Homo sapiens: one gene and its partners. The protein of the gene in region 2 purifies or fractionates together with the protein of the main gene of each other region. This does not show direct contact. Each region holds a gene or a part of one and is shown on either strand. Other genes may lie near its edges. The genes, in order: ATAD3A, GTPBP10, GNLY, DHX40 and DCUN1D5.

What was found.
Region 1: the proteins of GTPBP10 (region 2) and ATAD3A purify together in Homo sapiens (tandem affinity purification; one large-scale study listed by IntAct). This does not show direct contact.
Region 3: the proteins of GTPBP10 (region 2) and GNLY purify together in Homo sapiens (co-immunoprecipitation; one large-scale study listed by IntAct). This does not show direct contact.
Region 4: the proteins of GTPBP10 (region 2) and DHX40 fractionate together in Homo sapiens (co-fractionation; one large-scale study listed by BioGRID). This does not show direct contact.
Region 5: the proteins of GTPBP10 (region 2) and DCUN1D5 fractionate together in Homo sapiens (co-fractionation; one large-scale study listed by BioGRID). This does not show direct contact.

Annotation. Positions count from the first base shown.
Region 1 is NC_000001.11:1,515,159-1,518,679, forward strand, and holds part of ATAD3A (ATPase family AAA domain-containing protein 3A), read left to right. Parts: intron 1-475; exon of another isoform or gene 476-657; coding exon of another isoform or gene 658-700; intron 701-853; coding exon 854-930; intron 931-2,008; coding exon of another isoform or gene 2,009-2,152; coding exon 2,153-2,254; intron 2,255-2,557; coding exon 2,558-2,617; intron 2,618-3,521. UniProt on the Homo sapiens protein: Essential for mitochondrial network organization, mitochondrial metabolism and cell growth at organism and cellular level. May play an important role in mitochondrial protein synthesis. May also participate in mitochondrial DNA replication.
Region 2 is NC_000007.14:90,345,434-90,349,515, forward strand, and holds the start of GTPBP10 (GTP-binding protein 10), read left to right. Parts: upstream 1-1,282; 5' UTR 1,283-1,308; coding exon 1,309-1,341; intron 1,342-4,082. UniProt on the Homo sapiens protein: May be involved in the ribosome maturation process. Complements an ObgE(CgtA) function in E.coli ribosome maturation. Plays a role of GTPase in vitro. When missing, disorganization of the nucleolar architecture is observed.
Region 3 is NC_000002.12:85,693,024-85,697,171, forward strand, and holds the start of GNLY (granulysin isoform 2 precursor), read left to right. Parts: upstream 1-1,334; 5' UTR 1,335-1,395; coding exon 1,396-1,447; intron 1,448-1,729; exon of another isoform or gene 1,730-1,892; coding exon of another isoform or gene 1,893-1,973; intron 1,974-2,296; coding exon 2,297-2,400; intron 2,401-2,934; coding exon 2,935-3,033; intron 3,034-3,964; coding exon of another isoform or gene 3,965-4,057; exon of another isoform or gene 4,058-4,148.
Region 4 is NC_000017.11:59,603,601-59,606,239, forward strand, and holds part of DHX40 (probable ATP-dependent RNA helicase DHX40), read left to right. Parts: intron 1-1,514; coding exon 1,515-1,584; intron 1,585-1,845; coding exon 1,846-2,074; intron 2,075-2,639. UniProt on the Homo sapiens protein: Probable ATP-dependent RNA helicase.
Region 5 is NC_000011.10:103,050,166-103,054,161, forward strand, and holds the end of DCUN1D5 (DCN1-like protein 5), read right to left. Parts: 3' UTR 521-3,996; downstream 1-520. UniProt on the Homo sapiens protein: Contributes to the neddylation of all cullins by transferring NEDD8 from N-terminally acetylated NEDD8-conjugating E2s enzyme to different cullin C-terminal domain-RBX complexes which is necessary for the activation of cullin-RING E3 ubiquitin ligases (CRLs).

The DNA of each region.
Region 1 (3,521 bases), on a different chromosome or scaffold from region 2:
CCTCTGTCTCCGGGGTTCAAGCCATCCTCCCACCTCAGCCTCAGAGTAGCTGGGATTACAGGCGTCCGCCACTGCGCCCAGCTAATTTTTGTATATTTAGTAGAGATGGGGTTTCACCACATTGGTCAGGCCGGTCTCTAACTCCTGGACTCAAGTGATCCACCCGTCTCAGCCTCTCAAAGTGCTGGGAGTACAGTAGTGAGCCACCGCGCCCAGCCAAAAGATTTTTATGGTAAAGTTTTATGATGGGAAAACTGTCATCCCAGAAAATTTTGAGACCTGATGCTGAGGCCTCAGCAGCTCAGAGAATACGTACTTCTGTCCCACGACACCCAAACATCGACCTGTGTCAGTTCCCCTCTAGGAACAAAACGTAACTGAGGACGTTGTCAGATGCTTGTCCTCGTCACCCTGAGCTTGTTGGCTGGTATCCTATTCTTATTCATTCCCTTTCTTGCCTGCATGTGCTTGATAGCAGATCAATGACAACAGCCATTGGAAGCTTAGGAAAAGCGAATGTAACGTGAAAAAATAGAGGACACTTTAGCCATCGCCTGACTTTCTGTTGAATTGGGAAAGAGCCTCCTCCCGTCCACGTGGGATGGCCTTCCTGATGTGGCTCTCCAAGACCATCCCTGGGGGGATAAAACCTCACAAATGCATCAGGCCGTGTGCTGGGGATGGTGCATCGTCACGCCAGGTCTGACTAGGAAGGAGGATGGGGAGGCAGGGCTGGGGGCTTTGAGGTCGAGGCGTGGCCGTGGATTCCAGAAAGCCCCTTGGCTGGTGTGCGTGCCTGCCCAGCGGCATCCGTGTATCCTAACACCTGCCCTCCGTGTCCTTGCGTCTGCAGGTTATGCCAAGGACGCCCTGAATCTGGCACAGATGCAGGAGCAGACGCTGCAGTTGGAGCAACAGTCCAAGCTCAAAGTGAGTGGGGCCGGTGTGGGTGGGGAGGCCGGGGCGCACATGGGGTTCGGGCATGGAGATTGGTAGGGCTACTGCCGGTGGGTAGGGCCGGGGGTGTGTACATGGGCAGCAGTGGGGCCCAGGGCCAAGCTTGGGCGCCTCATTTCACAGAAGGAAACAAAGGGAGGTGAGAGACGCTGCCGCAGAGCCGCCCGAGAGGGAGGGCTGGTGTTGGTGAGGGCGTCTGGTCGTCCGGAGGGAGGGCCGGTGTTGGTGAGGGCGTCTGGTCGTCCGGATGGCCTGGATCTTCTCATTTCATTACACTCAGCAGGATTTTTTTGTTTTATTTCGTTTTATTTATTTATTTTGAAACGGAGTCTCTGTTTCCCAGGCTGGAGTTCTGTGGTGCCATCTGGGCTCACTGCAACCTCCGCTCCTGGGTTCAAGCAATTCTCCTGCCTCAGCCTCCTGAATAGCTGGGATTACAGGCACCCGCCACCACACCTGGCTAATTTTTATATTTTTAGTAGAGTCGGGGTTTCACCATGTTGGCCAGCCTGGTCTTGAACTCCTGACTTCAAGTGATCCACCTGCCTCGGCCTCCCAAAGTGCTGGGATTACAGGCTTGTGCCACTGTGCCTGCCTTGTTTCATATTATTATTTTTTTATAGACAGAGTCTTAGTCTGTCTTCCAGGCCGGTGTGCAGTGGCGTGATCTCAGCTCACCGCAACCTCTACCTCCCGGGTTCAACCTCTTTCCTCAGCCTCCGAGCAGCTGGGACTACAAGAGCCCGCCACCACATCTGGCTAATTTTTGTATTTTTAGTAGAGATGGGGTTTCACCATGTTGTTCAGGCTGGTCTCGAACTACTAACCTCAGTTGATCCACCCACTTTGGCCTCCCAAAGTGCTGGGATTATAAGCGAGAGCCGTCGCACCCGGTCCACTCAGCAGGATTCCTAAAATAAGCATGAGCTCTGCCCTCAGTGCAGTCCAAAAGGGGGTGTCCGGCCTCCCTCCCGGGGGGCCTTCGCGGGCTTCTGCTGGTGCTTCTGTGCCTGTGGGTCTGGATTCCTCCAGGGCCTGATCCTGGGTGCAGATGCGGCTGGAAGCCCTGAGCCTGCTGCACACACTAGTCTGGGCATGGAGTCTCTGCCGTGCCGGAGCCGTGCAGACACAGGAGCGGCTGTCAGGCAGTGCCAGCCCTGAGCAAGTGCCAGCTGGTGAGTGCTGTGCTCTGCAGGAGTATGAGGCCGCCGTGGAGCAGCTCAAGAGCGAGCAGATCCGGGCGCAGGCTGAGGAGAGGAGGAAGACCCTGAGCGAGGAGACCCGGCAGCACCAGGCCGTAAGAGCGCAAGAGGCCGCGAGGGAGGCCGCCCGGCTGCGGGGAGCGGCCTGGGGCAGGACTGGGAGCTGGGTGTGGTCCCGGGGCACTCTGGAGTCAGCCATTAGAGCTGCCCTCGGAACGGCCTTGCACAAACGCCTAAGACCTGTAAGGTCCCTCACTGCTGAGCCGGACGGGAGGTCCCCGCGCCTCCCCACGTTTGTGTGAGGCTGATGGCGCGTCGGAGTCCCCGGCGCTCCGCCCAGTCGGCCCAGACTGCAGCTCCCGGCTGAGATGTGTCTTTGCCGCCCTCTTCTCCCCCAGAGGGCCCAGTATCAAGACAAGCTGGCCCGGCAGCGCTACGAGGACCAACTGAAGCAGCAGGTGAGCTCAGCCTCCCCTGCGAGGCGCCTGCGTCCCTGAGAACGTAGGTGGCTTTGTGGGACCAGTCAGTGGGTCAGAGGCCACGGGGCAAGAACGCTGGGGTTGCTGACGGTGGGTGCTAGAGCAGGGGAAACTACTCGGACAGACACGCACCAGCACACGTGTACAGGCACACATGCAGACGTGTGCACACATGTACATGGAGACACAGGCACCTACCCACACGGACACACACTCCTCGCACACACACTCCCAGCACACACAGACAGGTGCACCCACTTCTGCACACACGGGCACACACACACCCCTGCACACACGGGCCCACACACAGACACCCCCACACAGAGGCCTGCACTCACACACCCGCAAACATACCCCCACACAACACGGGCAGGCACACACCCACATGGACACTCACACCTGTAAACACACCCCCATACAGACAGGTACGCACATACACCCCGCACACACACACACAGATACGCACACACACACCACACACAGGTACGTACCCCCCCACACACACACAGGCGCACACATACCCCCCACAGGCTCACTGGCACCCGCGCACTCGGGCACACACACAGCCCCACACACACAGGCGCACACCCACACACACATGGGCATGCCCCCCCATAGACGGACACACACACACCCACACACATGGGCGCGCGTACACCCCCCTATACACATGGGCACAGCCCCCCCGCACACATGGGCACGCACACAACCCCCCCACATGGGCGCACAGACCCCACACACACATACGGGCACACACGCCTTCCCGTCACAGGGACACACACACACACCCGCACATGGGCACACACCCACACACGGGCGTACACACCCCCCCCCACAGGCACGCACAACCCCCCCACCCCCCGCACGGGTACACACACACACA
Region 2 (4,082 bases):
ATCAAGACGGGGTTTTCACATCATGTCTTTCCAAATAATCACTGTCCTAAGTGAGGAGTAGAAGACACTGTCACATTGAGGTATTAGTCAGTTTTCACAGTGCCATAAAGAACTGCGCAGACTGGGTAATTTATAAAGGAAAGAGGCTTAATTGATTCACAGTTCTACATGGCTGGGGAGGCCTTAGAAAACTTATAATCATGGCAAAAGGGGAAGCGGAAACAAGCACCTTCTTCACATGGCAAGCAGGAGAGAGAAGAAAGAAGGAGGAACTTCCAAACACTTATAAAACCGTCAGCTCTTGTGGGAACTCCCTATCAGGAGAGCGGCAGGAGAGAAACAGCCCTGCATGATCCAATCACTTCCCTACTTCCACAATGGGGATTACAAATGAAGATGAGATTTGGGTGGCGACACAGAGCCATATCGTATCAAAGTATGAAAGGTTTCTAGGATTTATTAGTTTGGGTTGTTAAGAGTTATACGGCTGGCAACGCTGTGCAGGGCCGTTTACTTCAGCTGCATACATTTTTTCGCTGCATGAGGGGTTGGGGAGAGCTACTCTCTTCTGGTCCTGAAAAGTAATCAAGAGAGAGAGGGATTTTTCACATCGTGTCTTAATTCTCACAAAGGCACGCTTCAAATGACGGATAAAAACCCGTCTTCCCGACTCCAAGAAGCTACTTTCTGACAGTTGTAAACAAGCTTCTTTCTCTTACTGCACAGGAGAGTCCTCTTACAGATCTCAGATCCTGACATTATTTTCAATAAAACTTTGTGCGGCCGCTAGTTTTAAATTCATGGTCTCCTGGAAGCTTTGGCTGGAGACTACTCAGCTCGTCACTGAACTAACGGCTTTTGGGGGTTCTTTTTTCCCAGTTGAGTTTCTGTGTCTTTTACACGTTTGGTTTTATGGTCCGTTGGAGGTTTTTTCACGCTGAGGGTGAAGATTCTTAGTTTCCTCAATTAGCATAAAAGCTGCTCCAAGGCTGCTGAGTCTTCAGTTCCATTCCATTCAAAATGTTAATTCCTGAGACACGCAACCTACGCCCTACTGTCCTTTGTCCCACGGCTTCTCGAGATTATCTCTGTGTTTTAATAGATAAAACGCCTTCTCTCCCCACCCGTGGGGTGCAAAGCACAGCGCATGGGGCTGGTGGCGCCCGAGAGCATCACACAACGCATGCGCCAGTCCGCAGGTGTGGGCGGAGGAGAAATCGCGTCGGCGGCAGGGGATGACGTAAAAAGGCCGCGCTGTACTGCGGCTTGTGCCGCTTCCGCAAGAAGGTTTCCTGGCCTGTTGCAGCCATGGTGCATTGCAGTTGCGTGTTGTTCAGAAAGGTCCGTGCGGGTCCCCTCAGCCTGGTCCCCTTAGCGCTGACAGCTCTGGTTCTTCTTTGCTCCCCTGTCTCTCCACTACTGTCTTCGTGGCGGCCTTTTCCTTGCTTGGTTTTCCCATAGACTTCTCCGCCCCTCCTGTAGTGGCGCTTTGTCAGTAAGCGGTGACAGTGGTGTGTGTACCTGGCGTGGTTTGGACGGTTGTTTGGGGGCAGGGGCAGGGTTTGAAGTTCTTTAGAGACATAGTGTGCACGTGGTATGAGGAACTGGGATACCTGCCTGCTGTGGCCCAAATGTTGTGGTGGTTTTTTTTCCTTTAATGTCCACAGCCTGTTTTTATATATTTCTCCTTGAGTGCGCTGTTTAAGGTTTTTCTAATGGATTTTTATGAAGACACGAAAGCGTGTAATTGATGTGCCTTCCTGCAGAACATTTAGGTCGATTTTTGTGTGGTGTCGGTCTTAAGAATCGTTTCCGTAAAAATTTACAACTGCTTTGAATTTTTATTTTTTAAATCTTATCCTATCAGTAATGCTTTTTGAAACGTTGCCTGCGTCATATTTGGCCATTACTTTATTTCTAACGACCAGAGTAAAATACTCCTTTTAAGTAAGGCTCCTAAACCCCTGAATCTGATTAATCTAGAGCAGGAAAAAAGTGTTACATATTTAATGGAACTGTAGAAACTCTCCTCGAGTATATCAGAATGGTCAATATTTCAACTTTCTTGAAAAAAAAATCCCATTTGTTTTTTATAATAGCTATCCTAAATGACTAGAGATGTGGATTATGAATTTAAGAAATTACTCCTTAAGTTATTTTGATTTTAATAGCCTAAGAGGTTAATACGTAAGTCCTTTACCTACAAGAAGTTCTTGATTTAGTGAAGGAAACAGGTAAACACTAAATGCAGCGTGAGATTTATAAAGGTGTAATAATAGAGATATAATCAAATTGCTGGGAGAGCCAGCAAAGTCAGAGAATTGATTAGAGGAATTTGGAAAGACGTTAGAAAATATGACGTTTAGGTGGATTTATGATAGGAAAAACAAATGACATTCTAAGTAGAGGAAAAGCATGAGCAGAATGGCATGTAGAAATGGCGGTATTTCATGTAGTACAGAGCAAAGAGGAAGAGAGGAAGGGTTGAGCAAGTGAAAAGGATACAGGAAGGAACTAGGCATGGTAGGTGAGCCTATTGTTCTTGCTACTTGGGAGGCTGAGGTGGGAGGATCCCTTAAGGCCAGGAGTTCAAGACCAGTCTGGGCAACATAGCAAGACCCCATCTTTAAAACAGTCGGGGTGGTGTGGTGCCTGTAGTCCCAGCCATTTGGGAGGCTGAAGTGGGAGAATTGCTTGAGCCCAGGAGTTTGAGGCTGCAGCAATGATAGTGCTATGATAGTGCCACGGCACTCGAGCCCAGGCACCAGAACCAGACCCTGTTTCAAAAAAAAGAAAATAAAAGATACCAGAAGGGTATTTTAGTAGCTTTGGATATACAGTTGACCCTTCAAGAACATGGGGGTTAGAGATGCCCCCGCCACAGCTGAAAATCTTCATGTAACTTTCAACTCCCCCCACAAAACAACTACTAATAATCTGTTGGCTGGAAGCCTCACTGATAACATAAGCCGTCAGTTGACACATATAAAATATATATATAGTATATACTGTATTCTTAAATTAAGCTAGAGAAAAGAAACAGTTACTAAGAAAGTCAGAAAGAAGGGAAAATATATTTACTGTTCATTAAATGGAAGTGAATTGTAAAGGTCTTCATCCTTATAGTCTTCATGTTGAATAGACTGAGGAGGAAGAGGAGGAGTTGGTCTTGCTCTCTTGGGTGGCAGAGGCAGAAGGGGTGGGGGTGGAGGAGGTGGAAGGGGAGGCAAGAGAGGCAGACACACTATGTGTAACTTTATGGAAGTACATCATAATTTCTGTCATGCTTTTGCTTTTCTCTTTCCCCCAAAAAAATGTTTCTATAGGGTACCAATACCTCTTCCACCATTTGCTTTGGTTTCAGTGCCTCTTCACAGAAGGGTCCATGTCATAAAAGAAGTCAAAAGCAGTCCTGAACAATAGGAGCTCTTCTGCCAGATTATCTAATGTTCGTTTTTCTGGTAGTTTATTCTGTGTTTTCTTCCTTGTTATCTGGCACTGGATCTGAAGCACTCATCAAGCTGTCTTCTGTTAATTCCTCTGGTTTGGTGGCTGTTAGCTCTTGAGTTTCTTCAAGATCCATATCTTGAAGTCCTTTACCCACTTTCCCGCCGTTTTTGGCATATTCACAGCCTCTTTCATGATTTCCTTGATTGGCTCTTTTGTAAATCCTGTGAAATTATAACACAACACAACACCTGGACAAAGTTTTCTCCAGCACGAACTTACTGTTTGGGGCTTATGGCTTTCATGGCTTTTTCAATAATAATGGCATCTTCAATTATGTAAACTTCAGATTTTCCTGAAGTTTTCTCTATTAGTGTTCTTTTCCATGGTTGACAATCCTTTTCGTAGAAAATCATGTTTAATGAGCCTTAAAGGTCCTTGCGACCCCGTGATCTAGAGGCTGATTTACAGACATTGTGTTTGGGGGCAAGGACACCACTTCAGTGCCTTTGATGTTGAACTCATGGGGTTCTGGGTAGCGGGGAGGTGGGGCACTGTCCATTAGCAGAGGAACTTTACAAGTCAGTCTCGTATTGGGAAGGTACTTCCTGACTTCAGGGAGAAAGCATCCATGG
Region 3 (4,148 bases), on a different chromosome or scaffold from region 2:
GTGGTCTCATCTACTTGGGAGGCTGAGGTGGGGGGATTGTTGGAGCCTGGGCGGTTGAGGCTGCAGTGATCTGTGATTGCACCACTGCACTCTAGCCTGAGGTACAGAGCAAGAACTTGTATCAGAAAAAAAAAAAAAAAGTCCTGCGGTAGCTGACACTGCCATTGCCTATACGATTCCCATTCCCTCATCCTCCCTAGCAGGATATCAATTTTGTTCGAAGTGTCAATGAAGGCCAGGTGCGGTGGCTGATGCCTGTAATCCTAACACTTTGGGAGGCCGAGGCAGGCGGATCACCTGAGGTCAGGAGTTCAAGACCAGCCTGGCCAACATGGTGAAACCCTGTCTCTACTAAAAACACACAAATTAGCAGGGCATGGTGGCGTGCACCTGTAATCCCAGCTACTCAGGAGGCTGAGACAGGAGAATCACTTGAACCCGGAGGTGGAGGTTGCAATCAGCCAAGATCACACCACTGCACTTCAGCTTGGGTGACAAGAGTGAAACTCTGTCTCAAAAAAGAAAAACAAAACAAAAACAAACAACAACAACAAAAAGCAAAGTGTCAGTGAAGGTCCAGCAAAAGACTCCCTTCCTATTGCCCTTTGCAGCCAGGGTCATCATGTGACACAGTTCAGATCAATGAGATGGAGGCTGAGGGTCCCTGGGAAAGATGTTTTTCCTATACAGGTACCACCTCTTTCAGCTTCACTCTTTCCATTTTCCACGTGAACAGGCCTTGTAGCCTGGAGGAGCTACAGCTGCCTTTTTGAGATGCTGAGGCACCCTGTCTGAAGAAGGCCCTCACATCACTCAACTTGACTACTGGGTGAGCCCTTGGAGAGGCTTCCCAGCCTCTGCTCTTCAAGCCGAAGTACCACAGGGGACACGAGTCCCAGAGTTACAGGACCCCAGCTATGGTTCATGTGTAAAGGGAACCATTAGGCAACCAGGGGAAATGATGAAGAAGATCTACATTTACAAATGTGGAAAGATGTTCGTGGTATATTGTTAAATTAAAAAGCTGTTTAAAAATAGTTTTTGGGTCAAGTGAGATGACTCACTTATACTTTTAGTATAAGTATGTCCCATGCAATATCTGGAACGTACTTGTACTAAGGGGTTTCTCCCTCCATCGGCACATCCCAGGCATCCTGGCAGCTGCTGGCCTCCAGCAACCCCACATTCTAGTTGTGTGGGAGTGGGGTGTGGCATGGACCCTGTGGGCTACCACTGCCCTGAGCTGCTTCTTCACACACTGGTATTTGTATCTGTGGTAAACCCAGTGACACGGGGGAGATGACATACAAAAAGGGCAGGACCTGAGAAAGATTAAGCTGCAGGCTCCCTGCCCATAAAACAGGGTGTGAAAGGCATCTCAGCGGCTGCCCCACCATGGCTACCTGGGCCCTCCTGCTCCTTGCAGCCATGCTCCTGGGCAACCCAGGTAAGGCCTTCCCCTCGGGATCGATCCTGATGGCCCACCCAGCCTCGCACTCTCAGGCTGGCTGAACCTGGAGCTTGGACTCTGTGGGCACCCAGGTGCCCCTGCCTCCCCCCGGCCTTCTCCCCCGTCATGGAGGCCTGGCCTCCCCTCAGAGCCAGGCTTAGTCCAGTGTGCTGCCCAGCCTGTCACTGGCCTGGCCAAGGAGGAGAGACAGGCCAGGGATTCTGGTCCTAACTCTACTGGCCACACTGTGTGGCCTGAGACCCCCCTTTCCCTCCCAAGCCCCTGCCTCCGCATCTGCGTGGTGAAGGCCATTGGCCCTCATCGGTGGATCTGCGTTTCCTCGGGCCTACACTGTCTAGGATTGTGCGGGGCTGGTGAGAGAACAAGATCTCTTCTGTGTTCAAGGCAGACTTCCTGCCCCCTGCACCCTGCTCTCTCCCAGGCCTTGAGGTCAGTGTGAGCCCCAAGGGCAAGAACACTTCTGGAAGGGAGAGTGGATTTGGCTGGGCCATCTGGATGGAAGGTAAAAAAAGAAAATCCCTTGAAAGGAGATTGAGGGAAGTTTCTAGACAAACCGACCCCCAAATCTGTGTTGCTGGGGGAACAGAGGAGAAGAGAGAGTCTCGCCCTCCTGGCTTTCTAGAAGGAACGTGAGAACACGTGTTTGTGCTGAGAGTGGGTCAGAGCGGCTCCAGGGCAAAGCATGTGGACAGGTATCCTGGCCCCCTGCAAGGCCCAGCTCCTGTCCTAGGCCCTGGTCACCTCCTGGACTCCCACCAGCCAGGAGAACGGGCTTTCCCTCTCCTTCCGCCTGCGGAGGGGAAGCTGAAGTCTGGTCTTCCTCAGGTCTGGTCTTCTCTCGTCTGAGCCCTGAGTACTACGACCTGGCAAGAGCCCACCTGCGTGATGAGGAGAAATCCTGCCCGTGCCTGGCCCAGGAGGGCCCCCAGGTACGTGTTGGCTCTCTGCTCACCTGCCACAGTCCCTCTCCTTTCCCTCCTCCCTGGTGGCTCCTGGGGTGAGGTCTGGAGCTCTCTAATGGTCAGGAGGTGGGAGTGGAGGCTGGGCTGTTTCTGACGATGCTGGTTTTGTTGAATTCATGTCTGGCCAGGAGGGCTACAGGTATCTGGCAGACTCCTCCAGGAGGATCCTCTGGGGTCTCACCCTCCAAGGAGCCTGGGGCTGCAGAACCCAAATAGGCAGACTCCCCTGGGAGTTCCTCAATAGGAGAGGGGCAAGTGCAGGGCTGGGAAAGTACTGGGGGTGTGGGAGGCTGTTTCTGGGGTGTCTCAGAGCCTCTAAGACAAGCAAAAGGGTGGGCAGGGGCCAGGCAGCCAGTTCAGGCCTTCAGTGTATCCACGCTCTGGGAAGAGATCACGGACATTCCTGCCGGCCTCAGAAACACAAAGGGCCCCTTTCCTGGGCACTTTCACGCGCTCCCAGAGTGTCTGAGAGACCATCATAAGGGCTTTCTTTCCTGACAGGGTGACCTGTTGACCAAAACACAGGAGCTGGGCCGTGACTACAGGACCTGTCTGACGATAGTCCAAAAACTGAAGAAGATGGTGGATAAGCCCACCCAGGTGAGGCCAAGGGGCTACAGAGCCTCCTGTCTGCTGCTCAATGGAGGGGCCAGCCTGTGACCAGGTCGGGGATCGGGGAGCCCGGGGGCACCTTGCACAGTGATCCTGGGGGAGGGCTTCCTAGAAGGGAATCTGTGAGTCCCCGTGTGTCTGTGGATGAATTTCAGAGAACTTGTGAAATTGTGACTCTCTGGAACTGTGTAAGTCAGACGGCAGAGTATACATGGTTTTCATCATGTATCCTCAAAGAGGGCTTGTCCCAGAGAAGTTAGGAATCTTCCCCTAAAGCCCTAACATTTGTGTCCAAGGCAGAGTTTGAGAAGCTAGTTCCCCAAGAGGCCTGGGTCAGGACTGATAAATCCCAGATCTGCTACTTCCAAGCTGCATGGCCTTGGGCAAGTCACTTCCACTTTCTGAGCCTCTGTTATCTTATCTTTGAAATGTGATGGATAATAGTCCCTATCTTGCAAGTTGTCAAACCCTTTTTTTTTTTTTTTCCTTGAGATAGGATCTTACTCTGAGACCCAGGCTGGAGTGCACTGGTGTGATCTTGGCTCACTGCAACCTCTGCCTCCCTGGCCCAAGCAATTCTCCTGTCTAAGCCTCCTGAGTACCTGGGGCTCCAGGTGTGCGCCACCATGCCCAGCTAATTTTTGTACTTTTGTAGAAACAGGGTCTCACTGTGTTGCCCAGGCTGGTCTCCAACTTCTGAGCTGAAGCAATCCACCTGCCTTGGCCTCCCAAAGTGTGGGATTACAGGCATGAGCCACTGCACCTGGCTGCTGAAGCTTTTTAAAAGAGCTGAGGGCTGGGATGTACTTAGCTCCACGTCCAGCACTGAGTAAATGCTTAACGAATGACTGTGTTACTACCAAGAATTATTGTTTCACTCTCCCTCCTTCCCTCTCCTCTGCTGCCCCAAACTACTCAGCATCCTGGCACTGCAGGCTCGCACTTAGCCCTGGATACCCAGATTCATCCTCCTCCCCTGGGATGGCATAGAAGAGACTTTAAAACCAAATGAGCCAAGACTCCAAGCTCTGACCACACCTCCCACCCCACCAGTCTTCTCTATGCACCCCCTCTATCTGGAGCCCCCAGCCAGGTCCTGGACC
Region 4 (2,639 bases), on a different chromosome or scaffold from region 2:
GATTATTATGCACTTAATAAAATGTGAAATCGTGTCTATCGTGGTATAAATAAATGAGTAAAAGTTTATTGAGAAATGGAATTGTTTACAAGCACCTCTCCATAAAATTTTTGTTAATTACAAAAGCAAAAAGTAACTTTACAGTGGAGAATCCTGGCATATGTGACCTAAATCAAGCAATCAAAGTGAACATAATGAAATAAATAAAAATCATGTTCTTCCTGATAGGATACAATGAGAAAAACACAGCATTATGTCTGTGATATTCCTGCTAAAGATGCATAACCTGAATCTAATCATCCTGAAACAGACAAACTCAAACTGAGGGACATACCACACAGTAACTAGCCTTGACATCTTTAAAGGTGCCAAGATCATGAAAGTCAAAGACTGAGGAAGTATTCCAGAATGAAGGAGACCAAAGGGAAATGAAAAATAAAGGCAATGTATGATTCTGAATTACATCCTTTTGCTATAAAGGATATTATTAAGACAAATTGGTGAAATGTCAGTGGGGTCTGAGGATTAATTGTTAGTAATGTATCAGTGTTAATTTCCTGGTTTTGATGGTTATAGTCATGTCGGAGAATGTTCTTGATTGTTGATTGTAAGAAGTGCACAGTCGAGTATTTGAGGATGATGGGGTATTAGGTTGGCAGTTTGCTGTCAAATGATTCAGGTAAAAATTTTTTTACTCTCAACTTTTCTGTAAATTTAGATTGTTTCACACTTTTAAAAATATGGTATATCTTGGTTACCCTCTGTATGCCAAACACTGGGCAGGTACTAAAAATAGAAAAGTAGAGTAACATGAGTCCTTACATCATTCTTGATGATACCTGAGTCTAATGGAGGGTACAGATATGTAAGTGAATAATTACAGTGCAGTCTGATCTGGGTTATACTATGAATATATACAAAGTACTATAGGAAATAAATTATGACAAATGAACTAGGTTTATTTTTTTGACAAGTTTTTTGGAATGACATTTAGGTAGGGTAATGTAGAAGAAAATAAGGGCATGAATCGGAAAAATGATAGATTAATTGTCAAGTTTTAGAGTAGTGAAAAAATCATCCCTTTAAAAAGAGATGCAGCATAGTATAACATAAAGAAACCATATTTAAGTCAGAAGAACTGTTTAGGACTTGGTTTTACCATGCGTTAGCGCTGGTGATCTTGAGAAGTCTAGCTAATTTATTTGAATTTTAGTTTTGACTTTTTAATAAAGTTCCTGGCTCTCAAAGCTCATAGATTATTGTTAATATTTGTACTGATTCCTTATACCTAATTGTAGTGACTTATACCTAATTGTAGTGACTGTTTAACCTGTATAATTAATTTAAGATGAATTGGTAGAGAGCTTGTAGTGACAGTTGAATAAATGTAAACCTCTGCTTATAATGCTGTTTGTAGTAGAACATATTGTAATTGTTCATTGCTGAATGTAATGCTCCATTTACTTCATTGCTTTACTGTTGTAGTCTTTATCATTTTGTTTTTCTGTTTATAGATCTGTTGGGAGAACGTTTTGCACAATGGATGGTCGTGGAAGCCCAGTTCACATTCATCCTTCCTCAGCAGTAAGTACTTCATTTTTAATAAAGGGAAGAAATTTGTAAAGTTGTAGAAATAAGTAATATACAAATGTCTTCTACTTTTCACTTTGGAGTTAAATTTACATATATCTATATTACATAGATCTATAAGGGTATTGGTTGGCCTGTGCCTCCTGTTTGAAGAAGATAGGAATTAATTGAGAAGGATTTGGACTATTTGGTTGGTTTAATGTGGAATAGGGCAGGTTATTGAGTTACCATCATTAAAAGAAATGTTTTGTATAGCTTCATGAACAGGAAACCAAACTTGAATGGATCATTTTTCATGAGGTATTGGTTACCACCAAAGTCTACGCAAGAATTGTATGCCCAATCCGTTATGAATGGGTAAGAGACTTGTTACCCAAGTTGCATGAATTTAATGCACATGATTTGAGCAGTGTGGCCCGACGTGAAGTGAGAGAAGATGCAAGAAGGAGATGGACAAATAAGGAAAATGTAAAGCAGCTAAAGGGTGAGTAAATCATTTGTTCTACTCTTAACCACTATGCCATACTGCTTCCCAGTAGTACTTCACTATTTTTGTTTATAAAAATGTTGTGACCCACCTGGGCAATGTGGTGAGATCCCATCTCTAGCAAAATAAAAATAAAAATTAGCCAGGCATGTTGGTGTGCACCTGTAGTCCCAGTGACTTGGGAGGCTGATGCAGGAGGATCGCTTGAACCCAGGAGTTTGAGGCTGCAGTGAACTGTGATTTCACCAGTGCACTCCAGCCTGGGGGTGACAGAGTGAGACACTATCTCTAAAAAAAAAAAAGTGATGATTTATGCATTATTAACTCAGAATCCCCTTTGTTTCCAAGGGGCTTTTTCTTTCTTTCTTTCTTTTTCTTTCTTCTTTGAGACGGAGTTTTGCTCTTATTGCCCAGGCTGGAGTGTAATGGTGTGATTTTGGCTCACTGCAGCCTCTGCCTCCCGGTTCAAGCTATTCTCCTGCCTCAGCCTCCTGAGTAGCTGGATTACAGGCATGCACCACCACGCCTGGCTAAGTTTGTATATCCAAGGGGCTTTTTCTAT
Region 5 (3,996 bases), on a different chromosome or scaffold from region 2:
TTTTACTCCCTTTGAAAATACAGTGTGGATTTTTCAAGATGGCATAGTACTCTATTGCATAAATATGCTGTAATTTATTCAACAAATTTTCTATGCTTAAACATTTAGGTTATTTCATTTTTTCTATCAAATATGTTATGATAAAAATCTTTTGAAAGTTTTAAAATTTATTCTTTAAGATGATAGGCATAGAATTGTTGGGTGAGAAAATATGAAACTTACTAAGGCTTTTGGATGTATCTCCCTAAATGACTTCCAGAAAAGGCTATGCCAATGTATATTCCCTCCAGCAAAGTATAACAATTCCTGTCTCCTTGTGTCATCAAACATGGGCATTATCAATTTTTAAAATCTGTGCCAATTTGGAAGGCAAAAATACCATAGTTGTTTTAATATGCATTTCTTGTCTTGGCTTACATTTGTTTAATTCCTTTAATAGTAGGTCAACATTATAAACAGGGTTGTACTAGAATGTGTGCCATACAGTGAATTAGAAAAATACACAAAAGATTACTGGACATCTTATACAAGTGAAATCATTTATTTATCTATTCATTTTCATTTATTCCATTTATTGAGTGCTTTTCTATACTGTGGATAGTTCTGAGTACTGGTGAAATAAAAGCAAAAACACACAGTCCCTGCTCTCAAGGAGCTCACAGTTAAGAAAACAGATATGTAAGTATGCTACTGTAATATGGTGTTATCAGCACTCTAATAAAAGTATATACAAGGTTAGTAGTGTCTCCATGATGGGTAAGGAAAGGGTGTTTCTTTAAAAATAATCAGACCCAGAATAAGGGGGGAAACCCTCCATGTCTACAGGATGCAGTAGAGATCTTGGGCATTCCAGAGACAAAGAAAGGTGCTGCAACTTCTGGACATAAAGAAGTTCCAATAAATCCAATCTTACATCATAAAGACTAAGCTTACCATCACCAATTCATACATTGGAAGTTCAAGAACCAGATTTCCCTTATTCAGTTGGTGGTCTGTCATCTTTTTTCCAATTATTTTGTAACATTGGACTAGTCAACATACCATCTTATGACCAAATTTAAAACAAATTACTGGTTAAGGAAAAAAATGACTCATTAGTAAGTAAAGTGACAAGCAGAACAAATGAACCATCCATCCTTCAGGAAACTTTTTTAAAAAAAGATTTTCTGCATGGTTTATCTTGTGGTTTGCTTCTTCTGACAAGGCAGCAACCTTAGAAATGATATCAGCATGAAAAGTTCATGACTTATTCACCTGTGACATAACTTTGGAGTCTCATGGGAGTTCCAAAGTTTTTCTCCTGATCATGAGATTTGGTGGCTTCACATATTTACTTCCCCCCCCCCCCCGCCACCCCTGTGTTAACAGGTTTACTGGCAGATGCAGGAGGTGACATTCCAGTGGCTCCATTATTTTCATTAGTCAATATCATTTATTCTTTGTCATTAAACAAATATTTGGAACCCACTACATTCAAAGCATAGCATTAGGTTTTACTTAGCATTTTACAAACACTTTTAAGTACAATATCAATATGCACATCAATCTTACCTCTACCTCACAGAAGAGGAAAAAGGGAGCTCAAGTTATCTTCTCAAGGTCACATAGTCACTAAGAAGCAAAGGACTCTGAACACAGATCTCTGAACTCCAAACCCAGGGCTCTTTCCAGCCTTCCTTACTAGTCTCCCTGTCCTCAGATTTTCCTGCTGCCTAATTAATGTTCTTAAAACACCAAAGTAGCCCCAGCCTTCATCGCGTCTCATCTGCTCTGAAAATCCACTTTGACTATTTCAGTCCACAGAACTCACTCTCCTCTGAACTCCTATAGCTTATTGTCATATTATTCAACTGGCACTAACTCAGAAAATGCTTAGTGAGATCTGTCTTTAATTATGAAATAATTTTAGTGTCTATTTAGAAGACACTGTGCCCGGTTATGTGAGACTGCTCCAGTACTACTTAAACGTAAGTTTTATTCAGTTCTGCAAATGCTTTTGACAACCTACCATGAGTCAGGCACCATGCTGAGAGCTGAAGACATGGTTTCTGCCCTCAAGAATCTCAGTCTAATGGGAATGTGGATATGTAAACGTTTTACAGACATATGTGTACAATTGGTCATTCATTCATTAATTCAGTAAGCAAACTCAATTTGCAGGCCATGAGAGATAAGTAAAATACGGTCCATTTCTTTTAAGTAACTTGCAGTCTAGGATCAAAGAGAGACGTGAATTTTTTCATTCATTAAATACCTATTATGTGGTGGAAACAAGTGAGGAACACCTATGAATAACATGGTCTCTGTTCACAGAGCTGTTTCCTTTTTAAGGATCATAATCTTCAAAGGTAGAAACTAACAACTACACTGTTTTATCCTGTGTAATAAGAGGGCATAGCAAAGCCTGGGCCTATGGATATTTATTGGATATTGATTCATTCCTTCATTCTTGTATCTACTCCAAGTCTCTCTTGGTAGTTCTTACATATCATCCTTTTTTAGACCAGCTCTAGATAATGAATCTAAGATAGAATTATCATAAACCTTATAGTTCTAGTGTAAGTATTTCCAAAGATACTTGGAATATTTTTCATGTTATTCCAAACACCAACCACTTCTTGGCTTTTTATAGAGAGAATAAAATAGAAATTCCTAAATAGAAATTCAGTTTTCTCACTCTATTACTTTGTTCACATGTTTGATGTCAAGGTGCAAATGTGCAAGTAGTGGTTTTTAAAACCTGCTATTCAGAGAGCAAGGAGTTCCTTTGAGGTTTTTCAGAAATAATACTAGCAGCGAGGAAGACAGGGAGCTTCCCACTTAACCAGAGTATTTTAGCTTTCTGTTTTAAATACTGTGCTTCTAGGTAAAACTTATTTTGCAATAGGGTCCTGCTACTTAATTAAAAAAAAACTGATTTAAGAGACTCAATGTAATAAGACATCATAGAATTTTGGCTTTTTATTTTTTAATATTTCTCTTTTTTAAAAATAGAGTCCTTCCTATGAAGTCAAACCAATCCACTTTTAAAGACAGCCATAGTAGCTATGTTACTGAGCATTTATTACTTGGTGCCAACTACACTGTAAATTGATCATTTAGTCATATTTAGCATCCATTTAATGAACCATTTCACTATACTGCCTACAAAGAAAGCAAGTAATACAAATCAGTGTGCATCATTGACATTACAGATTAATTTCCTAAGAGATTTGCATTTCTAAATATGTCTATGTAGACAGAAGAAATAAGACCTGGTGTTCGATATATCAGTAGGATGACTGATCTATTAACACTAAACTATTGTACATTTCAAAATAGCTAAAGAGAATTCGAATGTTCCTAGTGTAAAGAAAACATAAATATTTAAGGTGATGGATATCCCAATTATCTTCATTTAATTATATGAATATATCATACTATCACATGTACCCCCCAAATAAATACATTATGTATCAATGAATTTTAATTATATGAATATATCATACTATCACATGTACCCCCAAATAAATACATCATGTATCAATGAATTTTAATTATATGAATATATCATATTATCACATGTACCCCCCAAATAAATACATCTATTATGTATCAATGAAAAAAATGTATCTGAGTGGTTCAATTTTTCCATTTGACTCTACTATATATAACACTTATTGAACACAAGTCCATCCTATGAGGTTCAATTGATGTTTTTCCAGATAGCAAAGAGTAACTAATATTTACTGCCTGTATTTCATTTCATCCTCAAAATAATGCTATTAGATAAGGACTATTATTATCCTCATGTTACAGACAAGGAAATGAAAGAACTAGCACACAGAAATAGGTACCCTAAAAGGACTAGGGGTGCAAGAGGACCATGTATGGGAAAACTTTCCAGGTGAAAAGCAGGAAAAAGAACCTCATTCCAGAAGGTTCCATTTCATGTCAAACTTCTCAAACTGACGTAAGCCAGATAGAGAGAACCTCCCAATTTCCACATCTATGTCT